Regions from separate parts of the Homo sapiens genome. Here all the other regions are linked to region 1. The links come from fine-mapping of genetic effects on gene expression. A gene starts in region 1. Each other region holds a variant in brackets. All regions are shown on one strand. Distances are from middle to middle.

What was found. PIP is the estimated chance that this variant, and not a neighbour inherited with it, causes the effect.
Region 2: its variant is fine-mapped to the expression of DMXL2 in whole blood (TOPMed, PIP above 0.99).
Region 3: its variant is fine-mapped to the expression of DMXL2 in whole blood (GTEx, PIP 0.97).
Region 4: its variant is fine-mapped to the expression of DMXL2 in whole blood (TOPMed, PIP above 0.99).

Annotation. Positions count from the first base shown.
Region 1 is chr15:51,620,148-51,625,791 of GRCh38, forward strand. It overlaps DMXL2 (Dmx like 2), which reads right to left and starts at 2,624. Exons shown (of 44, transcript NM_001378457.1): 1 at 2,312-2,624. The coding sequence starts at 2,398. It overlaps LOC105370816 (a long non-coding RNA gene), which reads right to left. Exons shown (of 5, transcript XR_932236.3): 4 at 5,028-5,139; 5 at 4,537-4,678. RefSeq lists an enhancer at 1,762-2,171 and a silencer at 2,542-2,761.
Region 2 is chr15:51,530,218-51,535,861 of GRCh38, forward strand. DMXL2 (Dmx like 2) reads right to left here. Exons shown (of 44, transcript NM_001378457.1): 13 at 5,446-5,567. Among named protein-coding and RNA genes, the nearest start is that of DMXL2, 90 kb to the right of the region's middle. The variant T/A (reference allele first, on the strand shown) is at 3,435.
Region 3 is chr15:52,112,831-52,118,474 of GRCh38, forward strand. It overlaps GNB5 (G protein subunit beta 5), which reads right to left. Exons shown (of 13, transcript NM_016194.4): 13 at 2,270-5,644. Among named protein-coding and RNA genes, the nearest start is that of BCL2L10, 2.9 kb to the left of the region's middle. The variant T/C (reference allele first, on the strand shown) is at 3,065.
Region 4 is chr15:51,514,432-51,520,075 of GRCh38, forward strand. It overlaps DMXL2 (Dmx like 2), which reads right to left. Exons shown (of 44, transcript NM_001378457.1): 14 at 2,647-2,736; 15 at 11-128. Among named protein-coding and RNA genes, the nearest start is that of DMXL2, 110 kb to the right of the region's middle. The variant T/C (reference allele first, on the strand shown) is at 2,446.

The sequences.
Region 1 (5,644 bases):
TTGAAAGCAGCTTGTTTTTTGTTTTGTTTTGTTTTGTTTTTCAATCTGTTTTTCACAAAGCCCAAGAGATCATTTCTAGTTCATGGCAAAATTAAAACTGGATCAGTGCGCTCAAAACTAAGGTAGTTAAATGAGATGGTGTGCAAAATGGGTTTGTATTTACATTTGTCAAAAGACCAAAATAACAGTGTCACAGGCAGGCATCCTAAACCACGTAAATTTTGAGTCGAATTTGGAAACCCAAAAGGACTGTCTTGTTGCAACATAAAAATGCAGTTTAGAGTAAGAAGATCAGTATGTAACAGAGGGGCCAAAGTGAGGAGTACATATAATTAAAAATAAAGTCAAAGATGGAGAATACTTGACAAGTTTACATTTCCTAACACAGCTATTAAAAACAATTACATATTCTTAAGCCAAGAGTAATATAGTAAAATGACACTTGAAGAAAATTATCCTAGCAGCGGTGTGGAGGATGAAGAAGTTATCGGACATGACAGTTTTGAAAGCTTTTATATTAATACCAATAAGATTGTAAAATAAGGTGGTGGTTAAGGATATGAAAAGGAGTAAATCTGGTAGACAGTGCAGAGTCAACTAGACTTCGTGAAACGCTGAATTAGGGAAGTGCAAGAAGATTTGAAAATGACTCTAAGCATCTGGTCACAAGTGGCCTACAGCATAACCACACCTGCACAGCACTAACAGTTCTTACACAGGCTTTTCCAGGCTGCATCTGAACCCGTTTATTTAGTTCTACATACCAGACCTGCCGTGAGACAGCACTCCACTTTAGATGGAAGCAGAAAACTACCACCACCATTCTAGCAGGAAAATATAACCAAAGATTCCAGCTTTGTTTCTTGATGAAAGAGGCCCACTCTTCTAACCCTGAGGAACTTCCTATCTGCACTACTGGGGAACAGGGAAATTTCTTCTCTCTATCCCCAAAAACCAAGATTCTCCACACACTTGAAGACAAAGCTCAGCTCTATATGAATATTTTAAGTCACATGTACATAAAACACAGATGACAAAAGGGGTCGTTCTAAACTGGAGCTAGGCCAAGTGGATTACACTAAAAAATTAAAATGGCTAAAAAGCAATCTTCTGGGGTTAATGTATCACAAAACGTCAAAAAATAAATTCTGTTCCAGAATGCACTGCTACATAATGATTCTGCAGTTTTGCTGAAGCTTTATTTTCCGCAGTTTTAAAAACACTGTTGGAAAGCAGACATCAAAGGGTTTTCCTTGTCTAAAAAGCATACCATTACGGAATTTCCAGTTTTATCAAGAAGAACAGTTTACAAAATATATTTAATAAAGGTCTGGCTGCCTACAGTTCCTTATAAGGAAGACCATGTATAAATTTCATTCTTTAAAAAAGAACTCAATTTATGGGAGTCTATCTATGAGTAAACGAAGCTCCAAGGCTTGGTTTAAACATTTCCACTCTCAAAAAGGACTGATGAGTCCAATCTCCTTGAGAAACATGTCTACTTCATCTAGCTTTTAAGGAGATTCTAAAACGTTATGTATACATACACTTTTCTCAAACAAGCACTGTTGTAAATTTTTCACATTGCCTTACTATATTAAAAAAAAGGCTACCTTACAGATTAAAATATTATCTAGGAGGATTACCAAACTACGACCTCCTGATAAATGAGACAGCTCTCCAAGCCACTGTGACTCTAACCTTTCCATTCTAAATCTTTCGGGCGCGGAGGATGAATTTTTCTATCTTTTTGTTGGAATTAAGATCCTGCATTATCAGGAGATACAGAGTCAGGCTTAAAGCCACAGACTCCAGCAGCTCCTCGCTGCCCTAGCACAGCGGGCAGGGGGAGCCAAGGCGCAGCATCGCCTCCACGCTCCGAGACCAACACCAAGTCTCTTCACCTCCACGCTCCGAGACCAACACCAAGTCTCTTCGCCTCCACGCCGAGAGCAGCTGCGAAACGGACGCTCTGGGGTTTCAGCCGCACCACCACTTTCCTCCACCGCAGACCGAAGGGCCGCCCTAGGAGGAGCCTTCTAGTCCAGTCACCTCAGGCCCGTTTGCTTGGGGTGGAGAGTGCGGTGGATTCCTAAGCCTTTCCCCTAACGGGTGATTTCCTACACCAGACGCAGGACCCACGGTCCCACGGGTCCCAGGGGGAACTAAACCCCAAGGCTGCAAAGGGGCCACGGGTGGGGCCCACCAACATCTCACAGCCTCCTGAGGAGGCGTGCGCCCTGGACAGGAGGTCCCTGCCCCCGCGTCTGGCCCCTGGTATCTTCCCCTAGGGCTCCCGGCCGCCGCTCACCGTGAAGGGGACATCCCCGACGCTGCCCACGGAGTAGCAGTTGTCTCCAGGGTTGACAGCTCCGGTGAGGACCTGATGCAGATGCATCTCCGGAGCCCGGGCTGGACAGAATGCGCGGGAGGTGCGACAAGCTCCGCGCCTGACCCTCCTCGGGCTGCGAGAGCCGTTTCCCTCTGTGCCTCCCTCGGAAACCCGCCCCGCGGAGGCTCTGGCTTAACTCCTCGCCCCCCTTTCGCCTTCCCTCCGCCTCGTCCCTGCCATGGGAGCTCCTCGACCGCCGCCGCCGCCCGGGTCGCCGCTCAGCTGCGGAAATGCCCGGATGTTCCCACTGCCTGCTGCACCGGCGCACAAATGCGGGAGGGCAAGGGTGCTTGTGAGGCGGGGGAGGGCACCGGGGGGAACGCGCGAGCCGGGAGCGTGCAGCAAGGGAGCGGGCCAGCGCGCGCGCCCACCGCGGGGGAGCGAGGTAGAGCCCTCCCCCCGCGGCAAAGCTCTCAGCTCAGTCTTTCTTCCCCCCATCACCCGCGTTTGCGCGTGCGCGCGCCGTGGTTTCCAGGGCAATTGCGCGCGCCACGCCGACCCGCCGTCCCGTGATTGCGCGCGCAGACGTGCGGGAGTTCCCTTGGAGCCTCCCGGGCTGTAGCCGCTGCGGACTGGGGCGGAGGTGGGGGCGGGGGCGAGTGGGGTGCAGGTCGCTCGGGGCCACGCAGCAGTCGGACGCCGGGGACGCGCCACGAGCCGGTTTTGCTGTGTTGAACGTATTCCAGAATACAGTGTGCAATGGTCAGTGCCGTTGACCTCAGAAGGACACCCGTCACCGGGAATTTCCACCTGGAGATATCTTAGATATCTTCAGTCTTTTCGAAAGTGCAGTACATAAGATATTTTATTTTACATAAACAATGTAGGCATCTTGCAACTATTTAGAGAAGCCATACTCCCCTGAAAGCTAATTATTTTGCTCCCACCTTTTGTCACGGTTATTCTAGACAGCAAAAAGCCGCCTTAGAGACGGGTGACTCCTTTCGACTTTTTTTCATGAGTAATTTCATGAATTAGCAGAATCGCCTGATTTTCCAAACTATCTGCTAAACTTTGAATGGTTGATAACAAGGATCATCAGCTCCCTGCCACAGGCCAATTCATGGCAAATGTTCTAACCCATACTATGCTTAAATCACAGGGTAAGGAAGTAGGGGACACCAAGACATAACTATCTGTAAAACCAGGCAGAACGCCAAAGGTGGTGTGATTGAGATATAAAAGTCTTTATGCACCACAGAAGAGGAAGAAGAATGTTGACTAAGGGCGTGGATAAGGCATTATGGAGACATAACCTGACATAAACGCTGAGTTTAATTTTGACAGGCTGAGATAGACAAGAAATGCTGCAAATACAGTACAGAAAATAGAGGGGGTGTTGAAGGTACAAAGATTAATGTTTGAGGCAGATGATTTATAGGGTAGGGAAAGTAAATAATACTTAGCAAGAGATCAAGGTATCCAAGTGGTCTAACTCTTGGCCTACCAAAACATATTATGGAGAGTCTTGAATGCTCCAAGAAGCCCAGATTTCACTCTGCATGCAGTGGGGGTATATCAGATGTTTCTGAGCAAAAATTTATATAATCAGAGCTGCTTTGGGAAGATGACTTTGTAGCATTTTGAAGCATAAAGGGAAGGGTGGGGAAGATTGGAGGCAAAGATCTGTCAGTCGTTGGTAATCTTTTCAGTAGAAAGTTGCAGGAGGAATGAAAAATAATACCTAATGACCTGCGGCATTCTCTCTCTTTCTCTCTCTCCCCCCTCCCTCCCCTTCCCTCCCCCCCCCTTCCTCCCTTCCCCCGCGCCATATCCAAGGGTTCCTTTTTGTTACTACTAGATTCTAGATGAGTCTCTTAATCTTTGACCTTCACTGCATTAGAAACCAAGTCAAAACTATCATCAAACAACAAATTGTACTCAGGTTTCCAAGAGTGTTACTAATTCACATTATTTAAACCATTTCACATTTGGCTCTTGTTTTACAGCATTCCATGAAGTTTTGGCCCATTCACACAGTTGTGAAGTTGTGAGCCTCTTTCTTCCTCTCGGTATCAAACTCAAAATCTGAAGCCTGTATCCACCTGTTCTCTTCCCTCATGAATCCTTTAAATGGCTTCTTGATAGCTGTATCTTAAGGTTGCAAATGACTAATTAAGTCTCCTGGAATTACAGCTGAGCCTTTTATTGTCCAATCTGATCAGTCAAAACTCACTCCAGACTAATATGGCAAGTTTCCTTGGTAGCCCACCAGGGCAGCTAGACCACACTTTTGACTGTCCACAATTTCATCTCTTCCTTGTTCATGCAAATTTTTTCATGGACCTAAAAACAAATTGGAAATTCTTTCTTCTAATTTTGGAAAGGGCTTTCTTTTAAAAATTAGAAAAAGTAGCAGTTTTGTATCATTAACAAAATATGCTAATCGAATTGTAAGATATAATTTATCATGTCCACAACTCTTTTTTTTTTCTTTTTGCTTTGATTTGAGATCCCAACACAACTCTTAATAGTACCTTTGGGGTTGGGTTTAATGGCCCATTGAATGTGTGCCATTAAATGTGGGACTTAGTTTCCCAGCAGTATCACCTACCGATGTGTACTAGTTATCAATTACTGTGCAATAAATTACCCCAAAATTTATCAGCCAAAAATAACAGTAGAGATTCATTACCTCACAGTTTCTGTGAATCAATAATTTAGTAGTAGCTTAGCAGGAAAGTTCTGGTTCAGAGTCTTTCATGAGATGGCAATCAAAATGTCAGCTACATGCTAAATAAAAGAAGCTGGACACAAAAGACCACATAATTCGTTTGTATGAAATCATTTGTATGAAATTTTCTGAAAAGACAAATCTACAGTCACAGAAAATAGGTTAGTGGTTGCCTGGGGCTGAAGGTGGAACTGAGAGTGACTGCTAATGGATATGAGGTTTCTTTTTGGCATGAGATAAACATTCTAAAATTAGATTGTGGTCATGGTTGGGCAGTTCTGTAAAATTACTAGAAATCATTGAATTGTATACTTGAAATTAGTGAATTGTATGGTAATTAAATTATACTTTCAATAAAGCTATCTAAAAAAGAAATAGCCAGGGATACAGTCATCTGAAGTCTTGACTGAAGTTAAAGGCCCTGCTTCCAAGATGGCAGGCTCTCATGGCTAGCAAGTTGAGCCTAATAGATAGATGGAGGCCTCAGTTCCTATGTGTTCCTCTCCATAGTGCTGTGTGAGTGTCCTCAAGACACGGCGGCTGACTGCTCCAGCAGCAAGTGATCCAAGAGAGAGACC
Region 2 (5,644 bases), 90 kb before region 1:
AAGTGCCAGCTCAGGCAATCAGACAAAAGAAAGATATAAAAGGCATCCAAATTGGAAAGGAAGAAGTCAAATTATCCTTGTTGGCAGAAAGCATGATCTTACATCTGGAAACACCTAAAGACTCCACCAAAAACCATTAGAATTGATAAATTCAGTAAAGTTCCAGGATATCAATCAACATACAAATACCAGTAGCATTTCTATAGGCCAACAGCAAAAAATCTGAAAAAGAAATTTTGAAAAAGTAATCTCAGCTGGGCACAGTGGCTCACCCCTGTAATCCCAGCACTTTGGGAGGCTGAGGCGAGCAGATCACGAGGTCAGGAGATCGAGACCATCCTGGCTAACACAATGAAACCCCATCTCTACTAAAAAAAAAAAAAAAAAATTAGCCGGGCATGGTGGCACATGCCTGTAGTCCCAGCTACTCTGGAGGCTGAGGCAGAAGAATCACTTGAACCTGGGAGGCAGCGGTTGCAGTGAGCTGAGATCACACCACTGCACTCCAGCCTGGGTGACAGAGACTCCGTCTCAAAAACAAACAAGCAAACAAAAAGTAATCTCATTTACAATAGCCATACATAATATTAAGAACCTAGGAATTCATGAAAGAAGTGAAAGATCTCTATAATGAAAACTGTAAAACACTGATGAAAGAAATTGAAGAGGACAAAAAAAATGGAAAGATATTCCATGCTCATGGATTGGAAGAACTGATATTGTTAAAATGTCCACACTACCCCAAGCAATCTACAGATTCAATGCAATCCCTATAAAAACACCACTGACATTCTTTATAGAAATTTTTTAAAGATTTAAAATTCATATGGAACCACAAAAGACCCAGAATAGCCAAAGCTATCCTAAGCAAAAAGAACAAAACTGGAAAAATCATATTATCTGACTTCAAATAATACTGCAGAGTTACAGTAATCAAAACAGCATGGTACTGGCATAAAAACACACACAGAGAACAATGGAACAGAAAAGAGAACCCAGACACAAATCCACACACCTACAGTGAACTCATTTTTGACAAAGGTGCCAAGAATATACAATGGAGAAAAGACAGTCTCTTCAATAAATGGTGCCAGGAAAACTGGATATCCATATGCAGAAGAATAAAACCAGACCCCTATCATTAACTGCATACAAAAATCAAATCAAAATGGATTAAAGATTTAAATCTAAGACCTCAAACTATGAAACTACTACAAGATAACATTGGGGAAACTTTCCAGGACATTGGTCTCAGCAAACATTTCCTGAGTAATATATGACAAGGACAGGAAACCAAAGCAAAAATGCACAAATGGGATCACATCAAGTTAAAAAGCATAGGATACAATCAGCAAGGTGAAGAGACAACCCACAGAATGAGAGAAAATATCTTCAAACTACTCATCTGAAACGGGATTAATAACCAGAATATATAAGAAGCTCAAACAACTCTACAGGAAAAAATCTAGTAATCTGATCAAAAAATGGGCAAAACATTTGAACAGATATTTCTTAAAAGAAGACATACAAATGGCAAACAGACATATGAAAAGGTGCCCAATATCACAGATCATCAGAGAAATGCAAATCAAAACTACAATAAGATATCATCTCACCCCAGTTAAAATGGCTTATATCCAAAAGACAGGCAATAACAAATGTTGGCATAGATGTGGAGAAAAGGGAACCCTCATATGCTATTGGTGGGAATGTAAATTAGTACAACCATGATAGAGAACAGTATGGAGGTTGCTCACAAAGCTAAAATAGACCTACCATACAATCCAGCAATTCCACTGCTGGGCACATACCCAAAAGAACGAAAATTGGTATACTGAAGAGGTATCTGCACTCCCATGTTTGTTGCAGCTCTGTTCAAAACAACCAAGATTTGGAGGCAACCTAAGTATCCATCAACAGATGAATGGATGAAGAAAAAAAAAATGTGGTACTTACATACGACAGAGTACTACTTGGCCAAAAAAAAAAATGAGATTCCGTCATTTTGCAGCAACAAGGATGGAACTGGAGGTCGTTATTTTAAGTGAAATAAGCCAGGCACAGAAATACAAGCGTTGCATGTCCTCACTTATTTATGGGAGCTAAAAATCAAAACAACTGGACCCATAGAGATAGAGTAGAAGGGTGATTACCAGAGGCTAGGAGGGGTCGTAAGGGATTGGCAGGGAGGTAGGGATGGTTAATGTGTACAAAAAAATAGTTAGAATTAATAAGACCTAGTATTTGATAGCACAACAGGGTGACTATAGTCAATAATTTAATTGCTCATTTAAAAATAACTAGAAGAGTGTAATTAGATCATTTGTAACACAAAGGATAAATGTATGCGGTGATAGATACCCCATTTTCCATTATTTGATTACTAAGAATTGCATGCCTATATCAAAACATTTCATGTACCCCACAAATATATACATCTACTATGTACCCACAAAAATTTTAAAAAAATTTTTTAAACCTGCAACTAACATTATATGTAATGATCAAAGACTGAATGCTTTTCCTCCAAAAATGGGAAGAAGGCAAGAACATCCAATCTCACTTCTTATTCAACATGGAGTTGGAAGTTTTAGTCACTGCAACAAAATAAGAAAAATAAAAGCCATACAGATTAGAAAGGAAGAGATAAAATTGTTCCCATTTATAATGAGATGATTATCTACATGGAAAAGTCCAAGAAATCTACCAAAAACACTCCTACACCTAATATATGCATTCAGCAATGTTACAGGATATAAGATAAACATACAAAATTCAATTGTATTTGTATATTCAATTGTATTTGTATATTCTGGCCATAACTACATGGACACCAACATTAAAAAGACAGCACCCTTTACAGTCAGTAGAATAAATGAAATACTTATGTATAAACCTAACAAAACATTCATAGGACATGCATGCTGAAGACCACAGGAGAGGGAGATTGGGGACACTATTGAAAGTTGTTTACTGTATATATTTAGAGATGGGGGGGTCTCACTATGTTGCCCAGGCTGGTCTTGAACTCATGGGGTCAAGCAATCTTCCCATCTCATTCCCAAAGTGCTTGGATTACAGGTGTGAGTCACCGTGCCTGGCTACATTATATTTTGAGTACTATATTATTATTTGAAGGTAGACTATGAGAGGTTAAAGATGCATATTATAAAACCTTGAGGAACCACCAAAAACAAAACACTGAGTATAATGGAGAACAAATAGAACCATAAGAAAACACAAAATCCCCCAAATCATGGAGAATGACATCAATAGCAAAAAACTAAAAACAGGCAAAAATTCCCATTTTCAAAAAGGAAAAGAACATACTTCTGCAGGGCAGACCAAGGAGCTTAATGTCTACCTAGTACAATGTTTTGGTCACCAAGTGATGTCAAGGTGTGCACATTACACCTATCATATATTAAAACAAA[T/A]CACCTCATGTAACTTTGACTTTCTTCGTTGACTGCAGAAGATAGAAAGACTGTATTTTATTTCAGCAAAGTATATGGCAAGCTGTCTCACAGAAATCCTTGAAACAAGCTGGAAAACATTCCAAAAAATGAAAATGGAGAAAGATTTCAAATGTATACTGCTAGGCTCTTTCTTCAGACCTGCCTATTTATCATATTAATAACTGACTCAGATGGTGCAGGTATAACACTCTTCAAACAGGCTGGTGACATAGTCATAAAGCAAAAACAAATACATTAAATAACATAATCCAGATTCAAAAAGATACTGAGAGATTGGACTGTTTAGTTGTGCTTAGCAAGATGAAATGTAATAGGAAAAATAGGTCTACATTTGGACCCCAAATCCAAATGTACAAATACAGAATGGAGAAGACAAGGTTTAGCAGAGAGCAGGGAGGGGGAAAGACTTCGGGATATTGACAGTCAGCTCATGATGAGTCAATTACATACGAAGAATGTGGAGTGACTGTCAAAACATAAATGTATCTAATGAGAGAGGTCACAATATTGCTATGTTTTAGTCATCCTACAAGGCTCAGAGTACAGACAAACTGAAAACTGCTCAGAAGAGTAACCAGGGTCAAATGTAAAACAGATAAAGAAACTTGATAGGCACAGGGGGAGCAGATTTGGCCTGAGGTAGTAAGGTTCACAGGTTACAAGAAAGCTGTCTTTTAATATCTTGAGGTACTCTCATACGCAAGAAATATTAGATTTATTCTAAGTAGAACTAGCACTAGCAAGTAGAATGTACACAAAACAAATAGCGTTTCAATATGATTGTGTGAGCTATTCAAGGATAGAATGAGCTGCATTTAGAGTTGAGTCTCCCTCATCGATGGCCAGATGACAAATTGGCAGGAATGAAGCAGAGGGGAATAAAGCATCAGATGGCTGGTGAGACCAGGTGACCTTTAAAATATCTTCCAATTCTAGTTCTATGATTCTATTTTTCTAGACTTTCTCTATGTCAAACCTTAAGCTCCAATCCAAATGGTTTTCTCACTGTTTCTGGAACAAGCTTTACACATGTACTTTCCTGTATCTATACTTACTTCCAGGCAATTTTCTCACTCAGGCAAAGACAAAGAATTTATCTTTCTAAATCTTATCCACTCATCAAGAATGAACCCAAATATTGTCCTTAATAAAGAATTCTATGCCTACCTTAATCTGATCTCTCTCTCTCCTCTGAATAATGAAACACTTCTAGGGCCATCCTTTTGGCAATTAATTACATACCACCCTTAGACTCCTCTTCTTATGTCTTAAACTGCTACTTAACTTTTTATTAATAAGCTCTCTCTTCAGCTAAATTAAAAGCTCCTTAAAGGTAGGTCTGAAACTTATATTTTGTATTCCCTCTACATCTAGGAGAACATAGTAGATGCTCAAAAATAGTCATTGGTTTTCAATACTGGAAACATTTTTATTAGAATAGTTGTTTTTATAGGTAAATGGAAAATCTACTGTTCAACTCTAGATACTAACATATATGACTTCCAGCTCAGATACAGAACTATCAGAATGAGATGCTGCCACCCACTGATAACAAATTCTAACCAGAGAATTTTTTAAAATGGTGAATCAAGCTTGAAAAAGTTCCAATTTTCCAACCTAAACATACAGCTTGGTAAAGATGCCTTAAAACTTCTTTTAAGCAAAGTAAGACTAACAGAACCAAACTAGAGAGTAAAATATGTTACAAACAAATAATATTTTAGAAAAAAATCCTTTTTATTTCTTTTCATGTAAAATGTATTAATGTGTGGTATGTACACTAAAATTTTGATTCATGTACCTTGGAACACAGCTTAGGAAAAAATAAATGTGTCATATATATGTCATATGCAGCCCAGAACATATACTTACTCCCTAAACAGCAACTAACAAACACAGGTCCTAGACAAAGTCAAAAGAGAATTCTTTATCTCCTTAGATAAATTAATAAAGATTATTAAATACTTACTGAAGATTCTGGGTCTGACAATTCATCTAATAATTTCCTTGCATCCACTACAGCTTGATAGAGTCTCAGATTTTTGCCATCAGAAGCAACAAAGCAAGCACTTGCAGAATTGCAGTATGTGCCTGAGAAAGGAAAACAAGGCCTCTGGGTTCTAAACATGTAGTGTATTTTTCTTATTGGCTAAAGGATAAGAAACAAG
Region 3 (5,644 bases), 490 kb after region 1:
GCCCCCGGTATATTGTTTTTCAGGACTGAGAGAAGAGCCTTTGATGGGAATCCCACCTGCACCTGTTCCAGTCCCCAAGGCAAGGCCTGGTGGTGCGCACGTGTTCGCGTAGCAATCAGATGCACTGTGAGACTCGGGTTATTTAGCTCCAGTGGCGCGATCTTGGTTCACTGCAAGCTCCGCCTCCCAGGTTCACACCGTTCTCCTGCCTCAGCCTCCCGAGTAGCTGGGACTACAGGCGCCCGCCACCATACCTGGCTAATTTTTTTGGATTGTTTAGTGGAAACGGGGTTTCACCGTGTTAGCCGGGATGGTCTCGATCTCCTGACCTCGTGATCCGCCCGCCTCTGCCTCCCAAAGTGCTGGGATTATAGGCGTGAGCCACCGCGCCCGGCCATCTAATATTTATATTAAACTTTCTCAGTTCATATTACTCCGTGGCTTCTTTCTCCTGATTGGATCCAGACTGATGCAGAATGGATACTAGCAGTGGTATTTCTGGGGGTTCAGGGGTCTGGAGCATGTTGAAATAGCCCTCCCAGGGTGAAAGATGAGTTGCTGCATCTTGCATCACTACAAAAGAGGCACGGCACTTGGCAGCTGTCTTAGTCTGTCCAGGCGGCTATAGCAGAATGCCATAGACTGGGTGACTTATAAATAAAGGCATTTATTTCTCACAGTTTTGTTGGCTAAAAAGTCCAAGGTTGAGGCCCTGGCAGGTTCTGTGTCTTGTAAGGACCTGCTTCCTGGTTCATAGACAACAGGCTTCTTGCTGTGTCCTCACATTGCAGTAGGTGTGGAGTAGCTTTCCGGGGTCTCTTTTATAAGGACAATAATCTCATTCGTGAGGGCTCCACCTTTGTGATCTAATACCTCCCAAAGGCCCCATCTCTGAATACCATCACACTGGGGGTTAGGATTTCAACATATGAATTTTGGGGGACACAGCCTGGAACAGTAAGCCATTTTGGACTTTGAAGGCAACATATACTGTGTTTGTGCTATTTCAACCCAATTGACAGGCTGGTGGATTGAGGAGCAGAATAAGAGAAGACTCTGCAGAAGGTTCAGGCTGCAGTAAAGCTGCCCTACCACTTGGGTCTTGTGATCCAACAGATCCAGTGGGACTTTGTCCAACAGGGATGCTGTATGGAGCCTCTGGCAAGCACTGACAGGAGAGAGTACAGACCTCTAGAATTCTAAAGTAAATCTAGAACCTCTTCTGAAGATAACTACTCTCCTTCTGAGAAGCAGGTTCTGCCTTGCTACTAGGCCTTGATAGAGGCAGAATGCCTGACCATGAAGCTTGAGCTCCCATCATGAACTGGATGTCATCTGACCTACGTAGCCATAAAATTGGATGTATACAGCAGCCACCTATCATCAAATGGAAATGGTGTATTAGAAACAGCCCAGGCAGGTTCAGAAGGTATAAGTAAATTGTATGAGCAGGCGGCTCAGACTCTTCCAACATCAACTCCTGTTGCTTTGCCTCCTCTCCCTCATTCTACAACTATGGCTTCTTGGGATGCTGCCTATGTCCAGTTGACTGAGGGAGAAAAACCTCCAGCCTGGATTATAGATGGGTCTGTATGATGTGCTGGTACCACATGAAAGAGAACAGCTGCAGTATTCACTCACACTCACTCAGGGGTGACTGTGAAGGGCAGTGGTGAAGGAGAATCCTTCCAGTGAGCAGAAACTCAAGGCTGTCCACTATGTCTGGAGTGAGAGATGGCCAGAATACAGACCTAAATTGATTCATGGACAGTCGCTGATGGTTTAGCTGGATGGTCAGGGCCTTAAAAAGAACAGGACTGGAAGATTGGTGACAAGAAAATCTTGGAAAGAGATATGTGGCTGAATCCCTCCGAATGGGCAGACTGAAGATATCTGCATCTCACCTGAATGCCCACCAAAGGGCATCCACTGCAGAGAAGACCCTGAATCAGATGGACAGAATTACATGCTCTGTGGCTGTCAGCCAGCCTCTCTATGCAGCTGCTGTGGTGTCTGCTCAACGGGCCGATGAACAAAGAGCTCTTGGCAGCAGGGACAGAGGATATGTATGGGTCCAACAACATGGAATTCTCCCTCCAAAGGCTGAGCTGGCTGGTGCTTCTGCTGAGTGCCTAATCTGCCAAAGCAAATGATTTCTTACAGTGAACTAAATAAGTGTTGTTAGAATATAAATTTCTGTACATCAAATTCCCATTTGAACTGGTTTTGACGTCTTACTGGTTTCCTTATTAATCAGTGAGTTAAAAGCTTGGATACATGTTCATGTTTTATTTGCAAGACAGTCATGATTTTACCTTTTTGTACATTAAACTTTAGCAGCAAGAACATTGTTTTCTCTTAGATTTGCAGTAGCTTTGGGGTAAATGATAAATCCTCTGGAACTGCCATTGGTAACTCAACAATGATGAAAAGAACTAAACAACAAATGAATAAATTAACCTCAACATAGAATTTCCAGTCCACACAATATGAGGCAGTTTGTAATAAGACTCGGTGAAAATCCTGTCTCTGCAACTTGGAAGCTGTGCAGCTATGGGCAAGTTATTCAACTCTCCTAACCTCAATCTCCCCATCTAAAAATGGGGCATCACGGGGCTGTCACAAGGATTACATGAATCGGTATATACAAAGTGCTTAGCACAGTACCTGGCACACAGTAAAAGGTTGTCACTCCACAGAAACTTTTATTTGTAAATGGTAAATCCTCTGGCAACGGTGACTATGCTCACTTGCCCCATTATCAGCCAAAACCAAAATGTGACAATATTGGTCTTACCTATGTGGTTTCTGTTTTATTGAGAATAGCTAGTGACTGCTTATTATTTTTTCCACGTTTTAAGTAACAGCTTTATTGAGATGTAATTCATATACCAAAAAATTCACCCTCTTACAGTCCAGTGGTTTTTAGTCTATTCACAGAATTGTGCAATCACCACCATCTAATTCAGTTCCCCCCGGAGAAACTCAGTGCCCACTAACCGTCACTCCTCACCCTAGCCCTAAGTGACCACCAATCTGCTTTTTGTCTTTATGAGTTTGCTTA[T/C]TAGGACCTTTCATATACATGGAATCCTACAACATGTGGCTCTTTGTCTCTGGTTTCTTTCCCCTGGCACAATATTTTCAAGGTTCATCCATGTTGCAGCATGTGTCCACGCTTTCTTTCTTTGTATTCCATTCTGTGGATGCGCCATATTTTGTTCATCGATTCATCCACTGTGGAACATTGGGGCTGTTTCAGCTTTGGGCTATTATGAGTAATGCTGCTATGAACATTTGCATTCAAATTTCTGTGTGGACATATGTTTTAATTTCCCTTGGGGAGGCTGCCAATTACCGTGGAAAACACACAGGTTGGAAACAGTGACCTCTGCTTCATGGTTCCTGGTTTCTGACAAAGTTAATCTTTCACCATTGGTGTGCTGGTTAGATAACCTTGGGTTCAAAGACAGACATTTCCTGTTGTCACAGTCTTTACATAAACGCTCATACCATACTTACGATTAGTTGTTTATGTGGGTTAAATTAACCATGGAATCACTCCTGATCCCATCTCCTTACTAGAGGGTCTGCATCTTTTTTTCTGGTCCTATTTTTAAAAATAATGATCTTTAATTGACACATAATTGTATGTATTTATGGGGTACAGTGTGTTATTTTGATACATGTATACAATGTGTAATGATCAGGGTAATTAGCATATTAATCCCTTAAATGTCTATCATTTGTGTTGGGAATGTGAAAGTTGTTAGAATTCAAATAGAGTCACTAGTGTTTTAAAAAAACAAACCATGACAAATAGAGCTGGGGAGGCCATGAAGAGGGGATTCTCATGCTTGTATGCCTAATACCAAAAATGATCACAAAAGATTCTGCAAAAATTACAACCTTGCACATAGGCTGCTGCAACCTCACACAAAAATTACTTCTGCAAAGACATCTGCCTAGCAACTGCCTGTCCAACCTCGGACTGGTGTGACCTTTGTTATTGATATTTGTAGCCAAGGATAATTATTTCAAAACCATTATGTAATCCTCCTCATTTTTTCCTTTAAAAACCTTTGTTTTTCTTTTTTTTTTTCTTTGTTTTTTTGAGTCAGAGTCTCGCTCTGTCGCCCAGGCTGGAGTGCAGTGGTGCCATCTCGGCTCACTGCAAGCTCTACCTCCTGGGTTCATGCCATTCTCCTGCCCCAGCCTCCCGAGCAGCTGGGACTACAGGCACCTGCCACCACGCCCAGCTAATATATATATATATTTTTTTTTAGTACAGACAGGGTTTCACCGTGTTAGCCAGGATGGTCTCGATCTCCTGACCTCGTGATCCACCCGCCTCGGCCTCCCAAAGTGCTGGGATTACAGGCGTGAGCCACCGCGCCCAGTCACCTTTGTTTTTCTTTACCTCCTGGAATATGCACACAGTTTACTACAGCACACATATTCCTGTTGCAATGCCCTACTTTTGATTAAATATCTTTAGCGAGCCTGTCTTTGTTATTTAGGTTGACAGGAACATTCAAAATTCTCTCTTCTAGCTACTTGAAAATACACAGTAAATTATTGTTAGCGATAGTCACCCTACAGTGCCGCCAAACACTAGACTCCTATCTTGCTGCAAATTTGATTCCATTAACCAACTCCTCCCCACCCCCTGCTGCATCCTTTTTCTAATGACATGAACATATTCAGTCATTTCATTTCTTTCACTGGGGTTGGCCCTGTGGCAGCCCACGGGAGGCCAGAGTCCCCTGTGGAGACTGACCAACCCTGAAGGCCAGCCTGGCTCCAGCCAAGTGCTGTCTAGAAGCAGGAGTCTGTGGTATGTCTGGAAGAGTGACCCAATTCTCTCCGGTCACGGATGAGAGGGCAAGTGGTTTAGCATGGCAATCCTTACAAAGGATCCACAGAGACAAGATTCACTCGCGGCCTCCCCAGTGGGCCTCCGGCTCAGATTTCCTGGCCCACCTCAGGCCCGCCCAGTCCAGATCTCAGGGCAGGGCCCTGAAGGCGCAGTGCAGGAACCTGCCATGGGTGGGACGATTCTTCTCAGCAGGCAAGTTTGGGAAATGAAGATCTACAAATCCCCACTCAATCAGCTCTTCCAGGCTTGGGAATGGCCTGGGCCTCAGCCCCAGTCTTCTACCCCACCCACTGTGCCTTCCCCAGGCTTCCAGGCGTCCTCTTTTGAAAGGATTTTCAGGTCACAGGCCTCAGCTGGTCCCTAGCCCTTCCGACTGCCTCTCTGGGACTTCCTCCACCGACCGGGGCTGTCCCAAAGCCTCCTCTGAAGGCTTTCCCTAGGGTGGCTCTCCTCAATCATCCTGTCACCTCTTTCTTTGCCAAGCTCTTCCAAGGCCCTTAGTGGTTTCTGGGAGGTCTCACACAGAGGGGCTGGAAAAGGGCTCATTAGCCCAGATCAGCTGTTCTCAAAGCAAGATCCAGGGCCCCCGAGGGTCCCTGAGACCCTTTCAGGGGGTCCTCACGGTCAAAACTATTTTCATAATAATATTGACACTTTTTTTTTTTGTATGGGTGATTTTTTTATTTTCATCCTCTCAGGAATTTTCCAGAGACTACTGGCATGGGAGAAAGATCACCTTGATGGCTAATGGAACGTGTGCATCTGTAT
Region 4 (5,644 bases), 110 kb before region 1:
TTTAAAGTACCTTGTGATGGCTGAAAAAATATTTCTGTTTCCTTTTTCTCCATATCTTCCTTATGTGGTTTATATCCTATAATGAAGTCTTCTTGAAACACATGAAGCAACTGTGTATTTGAGCCACACTACAAATACAAAAAAAAATGAAGAGGTTTTATCTTTGAAATTCCCTGTCTCCCATCTCCCATCTGTCACCTCCCCAATGCTAATGCAGAAGAAATATATCTAACAATTTCTATTCTTTACCACTACTAATTAGAAAGAAAAAAGCAACAGAAGAGAATCATTAAAACTATCCTGGTCAGAGAAAAATTACTTTCAAAAATGTCACAGCCAATAGCAGAATAGAAGAGCTCTAGTACAAACAAATCAACAGGTTTGCTTCTCAGGAAAAAAAAAAAAAAAAAGATGCTAAAAAACCCAAATTCCAAATTTAAAGAACAGTTAAGCAACCTTCACCACTTTGAGCCTGAAAGCATCAGATTCACAACTGACTAGGGAGGGCTGCACTATGTAAGACACACTAGACTACTACACAACTTGTAATTTTTTCAATTCCACTGGAGAACCAAAAAACAAAACAAAACCCAGAAAGCTCCTCGAAGTATCCCAATAGCTCTGTCTAGTGGGAATTATGAGGGATCCTATAACAGCCAGCAGGATGATACATCTCTAGAGAACTAAACTTACACATAAGTAACTAGAACCCCTCGAAGGATGGATGAAACATCACTGTCAACTGCTATGCTCCATGACCATGTTTTAAGACTATCACGAATGGCTACTTAGAACCTTAACAGGAACTGAAGTTCAAGGAAAGGCTAGATCCAAACAAAAGCTTATTTTGGAAGTGTATTAAGACAATCAATCAGATGGCTCCCCCAGAGATTTCAAGAAAAGGAAGCAGCTATGATTATCTTGGCATTGGATGAGGAGTCTATAATCTTATAGAATAAAGGAAAACCTGCCTCTTTACATAATAGAAAGAAATAAAAGGATTATAATATTAGGTTGGGCCATACAATTTTATGAAAGTTATAGGGTATTTTGTGTTTCTCTAGGTAGAAACATTAAAAATCTCTTCACATTCATTGTCTAGGAGGTCATTTCCCCAAGGGACAAACAATAGATGAAAGTAAAGAGAAGGGTGATGTCTTCACAGATATAGAAATCATACAACACATTGGGAACAAACCTAGAAAGAATTTTAAACTTTGTCATTCATTATTGCTTACAGTTTACCAGCCCCTGTGTTAAAAATAGGCACAAGGAGCAGGGGAAAAAGTGTTGAGCAAATATGAAGTAAAAAAACTGCTTTGTGAGAGCAGACTGTGTTAATATCCCATGGTAATGAGTGCAAAGGAGGCTAAAGTAGGGGATGAATTTAACATCCAATCCATTAAAAATTAAGTTATCTATAGGAAGGAAGCCAACCCACTCTTCTACATTCCTATTGAGTAGAAAAAAGAAATCACAGGCTGAATCTGAAGAAAGGTGGGGCACTGGGGATTAAAAAGTTAAGCATTTCCCAGGAGGTATTAGCAATATGGGTCTGGCAGCCCCAGTTCTGCTATCAAGAGATGATGTATTTTATCTATATTAGCAGAAATGAGTACATTTTCCCCAATAGAAAGTGCAAGACACTAAAGAAAATTTATGATGTAACTCTATACTTGCTTTCAACTATAGTTGGCTCTTTCTTCATTTCCTTGTTTAAAACTATTGGTAGCTTCTTTACCAAACTAATCCTTTTCACATTTGGAATAAATGTTAGTTCTATCCCTTAGACCATAAACATAGTCCTAAAGAAACAAATATCCTGAGGGCTAAAATGGGTTTTACATCTCCCTCTAGGGAGAAGGGTTCTCCTTCTTTCCTAGGTAGTAGCTGGGGAGGAATACTACACAAAGGACCTGTGATTAAAAAGTATATGTCCACTTGAATCTGACTTTCATCTGCATTTTAAAGGACCTCACAAAAGTACCCAACATGGGGCCTAACAAGGCAAACACTCTGAAACTGAGGTTACCCTCTATTGAGTTGAAAAGAGTAATAATATAAAATGAGAAACCACAACCCGACCCTTCTATGCAGCTGCACTGTATTTTCTCTCAGCATTTCAAGATCAAGGTCATGGTTTCTCTAAATGAATCAAATTTCCTTTGCTACAAATACAATTCAACTGGAGAAGAATAATTCCTTTTTTAAAAAATTTTACTTAAATAGCTTTTGGGGTACAAGTGGTTTTTTTGTTACATGGATGAACTAGTAGTGAATTCTGAGATTTTAGTGCACCCATCACCCAAGTAGTGTACACTGTACCTAACATGTGGTTTTTCAAATCTCTAGTTCCATTTCCACCCTCCCTCTTCTGAGTCTCTAAAGTCCATTATATTGCTCTGCATGCCTTTGCATACTCATAGCTTAGCGCCCACTTATAAA[T/C]GAGAACATACAGTTCTTGGTTTCCCAAGGAGAAAAATAATCCCTAAATCATTAGTAGATTTTCACTATGGGAATCAACATAAGTTGTCTGCATTTAATAACAAACAAGAAAATTATTCTGAGAATGACATATATCATATACATATAAAACACCATGGGATAAAGTATACGAATATCACCAATTCACAAGCATGTTTTTACTTGGTTGGTTATTGCGTCGAGTTCAATAATGCAGCCAGGTCGAGCAGTAGACTGTTGGCTCACAATATTAAACACTTCTCCAATAAGTTTCTGTAAATAAAAAACACAAAATGTTAATGGCCAACAAATTATAATCTAATGTCAATATGATACAGCATCTTGGACATTTAAGGCCCCCTCTAAATATTCACTGATTGGCAATGGAATGTAATACATTCAAAGAAATACTTCAACTTTCCATACTCATTCTCATGTTAAGTCTAAAGTTAAGCAGAGAGAAAACTATAATGTTTACAAAAATAGCATATAACTTCAAGGTATCATATCTTCTTCATTTTTGCAACCTTAAAGCCCAAGACAGACATGGCTGAAGATCTGGCCCAATGCCTGAGTGGTCTGCAGATGTGCAATGCCATTTAAAAGTACAACCCTGCCAGACCGAAGGTAAGGGCAAGGGTTGAGAAGAAGTGGGACTCTTGTGCCTTGGGATAAGGATGTATGAACAAACAAATGAAGCCTAACTTTGGAACCCCAAAATCCCAAAACTTTCTGCTAAAAAGAACAGTCCTCCTCACCCATGTTCCAACCAGCTTTCTCTTGCATAAAAACCTTTCAGTAACTTCATCTGAAACGGTTGCCTCAGAAAGAAATGCCCATTCTCCTCAGCACCCACCTTTACCACTTTTCACTACCTCAAAAAGGCCAATAAGAGGGGTTAGAGGCTAGCTTCGCCTAGAGATATAAGTACAAGGTAGGGAGATATAAGTACAAGCATATACACTGGAGTTGTAGAAACTTTCTTATTTGTATCAGTAGGATTCCAGAGAGCATGTAAGAAAATTGATTCTAGGGTTATTAGATCAAAAGAAAAAAATATGTAGTTAGGTAGGGCTGAATTTACTGATATGGGTATGTTCACCCAAGATTCATGATTTAAAGTGTTAGCTCAGACATTTAGAAATGGTGTTAACAGGGCCAGGGTGGTGGCTCACACCTGTAATTCCAGCACTTTGACAGGCCAAGGCAGGTGGATCTCCTGAGGTTAGGAGTTAAGAGACCAGCCTGGCCAACATGGTGAAACCCCGTCTCTACTAAAAATATAAAAATTAGTGGGGAGTGATGGAGGGTGCCTGTAATCTCAGCTATTCAGGAGGCTGAGGCAGGAAAATCACCTGAACCTGGGAGGCGGAGGTTGCAGTGAGCCGAGATTGCACCACTGCACTCCAGCCTGGGTGACAGGGCGAGACTCCGTCCAAAAAGGAAAAAAAAAGAAATGGTGTTAACAGTCTGCTGGGTTTGTTCATTGAAATCTGGACTCAACTGTGGCCTATAGTTGGTGAGGTGAAAACAGTGAAATTTTTGTAGCACACAACAAAGCTTTGCTACTCAAAGTGTAGTCAATGGACCAGCAGTGATGGGAAGCTTTTTATGAATGCATACTTACTCCCTGAAACTAAGACATCTGTATTTTAATGAGACTTCCATAGGATTCATGCGTATATTAAAGTTTAAGAAGGACTGCTGTAGATCACTGGTTCTCAATCTTGGCTGCACACTGAATCACCTGGAGAGCTTTAACAATCAATGATGCTTAGGTCCCACCCACAGAGATTGAGGTGCTTCCAATGTGCAGCCAAGGTTGAGATCCCCTCACAAGAATAGTTATGTATTCCAGCTAAGGATTTGCTTTCCCTGCCCACAACTCTCTGCCAGCACTATAATTAACAGACTTTCTGAACACTACACTACAGAATTCCAGAATTCTACAGAATCTCACTCAACATCACCTCCAACCAAGGAACTCATTTTATAGTGGAAGATACTACTGGAAATTAGAATGAAGTAAAGCATTCGCCCAGGGTGCAAAATTTAAAAGAGTGCTCAAAAATTCAATAATCAAGAAAAATAATATTTTAATGCAATATTTTAAAATCAAAATTAATGTAAACAATCCATAATGAGCAAAATATCAAACATTTAAATATAGAACCCAAGAGTATCTTAATGAGCCACACTGATACCATTAATGTGCATCAAAACTGCACATATGTGTTTTGATGTATATTTTTTTTTAATGGTTAACATTCTTCTTTTCTTTTTTCAGGGTCTTGCTCTATTGGCCTCCAACTCCTGGGCTCAAGTGGTCCTCCTATCTCAGCCTCCCAAGTAACTAGGATTACAGGTGCATGCAACCATGCCTGACAAATTTTTTAATTTTTTTGTAGAGACAGGGTCTCACTATGTTGCTCAGGCTAGTCTCAAACTCTTGGCCTCAAGCAATCCTCCCACCTCAGCCTCCCAAAGCACTGGGATTACAGGCATAAACCACCACACCTGGCTGTAGTTAACATTTTTCCAGAACATCAAAGTAGTTAAAAAATGCTAAAAAATTGAAAAGTAGGTGCATTAAAACTCACATATTACTTTAAGTTTAAATTTATTTATACCAGAAATTGGACTAATTATAGTTTTATTTTTCTGGCTTTAATGGAAACAAACACATTAATAATATTTTCAAAATCTCCTTCTTTGCTTCTCTGGTTTTGACAAAGTCTCTTGTTTTTTTTTTTTTTTTTTTTTTTGAGATGGAGTTTCACTCTTGCTGCCCAGGCTGAAATGCAATGGCATGGTCTTGGCTCATTGCAACCTGCGCCTCCCGAGTTCAAGTGATTCTCCTGTCTTAGCCTCCCGAGTAGCTGGGACTACAGGTGCACGCCACCACACCTGGCTAATTTTTGTATTTTTAGTAGAGACAGGGTTTCACCATGTTGGCCAGGCTGGTCTTGAACTCCTGACCTCACGTGATCCACCTGCCTCGGCCTCCCAAAATGCTAGGATTACAGGGTTCACCGCACCCAGCCCTGAACTACGTTTTAAGGGCATCATTCTAACTCCTATGTTGAGAACAGACTTTGAGAAAGCAGAGCAAAATCATAAAGAAAGCAATACAAATTTTTTCACAATCTAACCTCTAACTTCCTATCCAGTCTCAGCTATT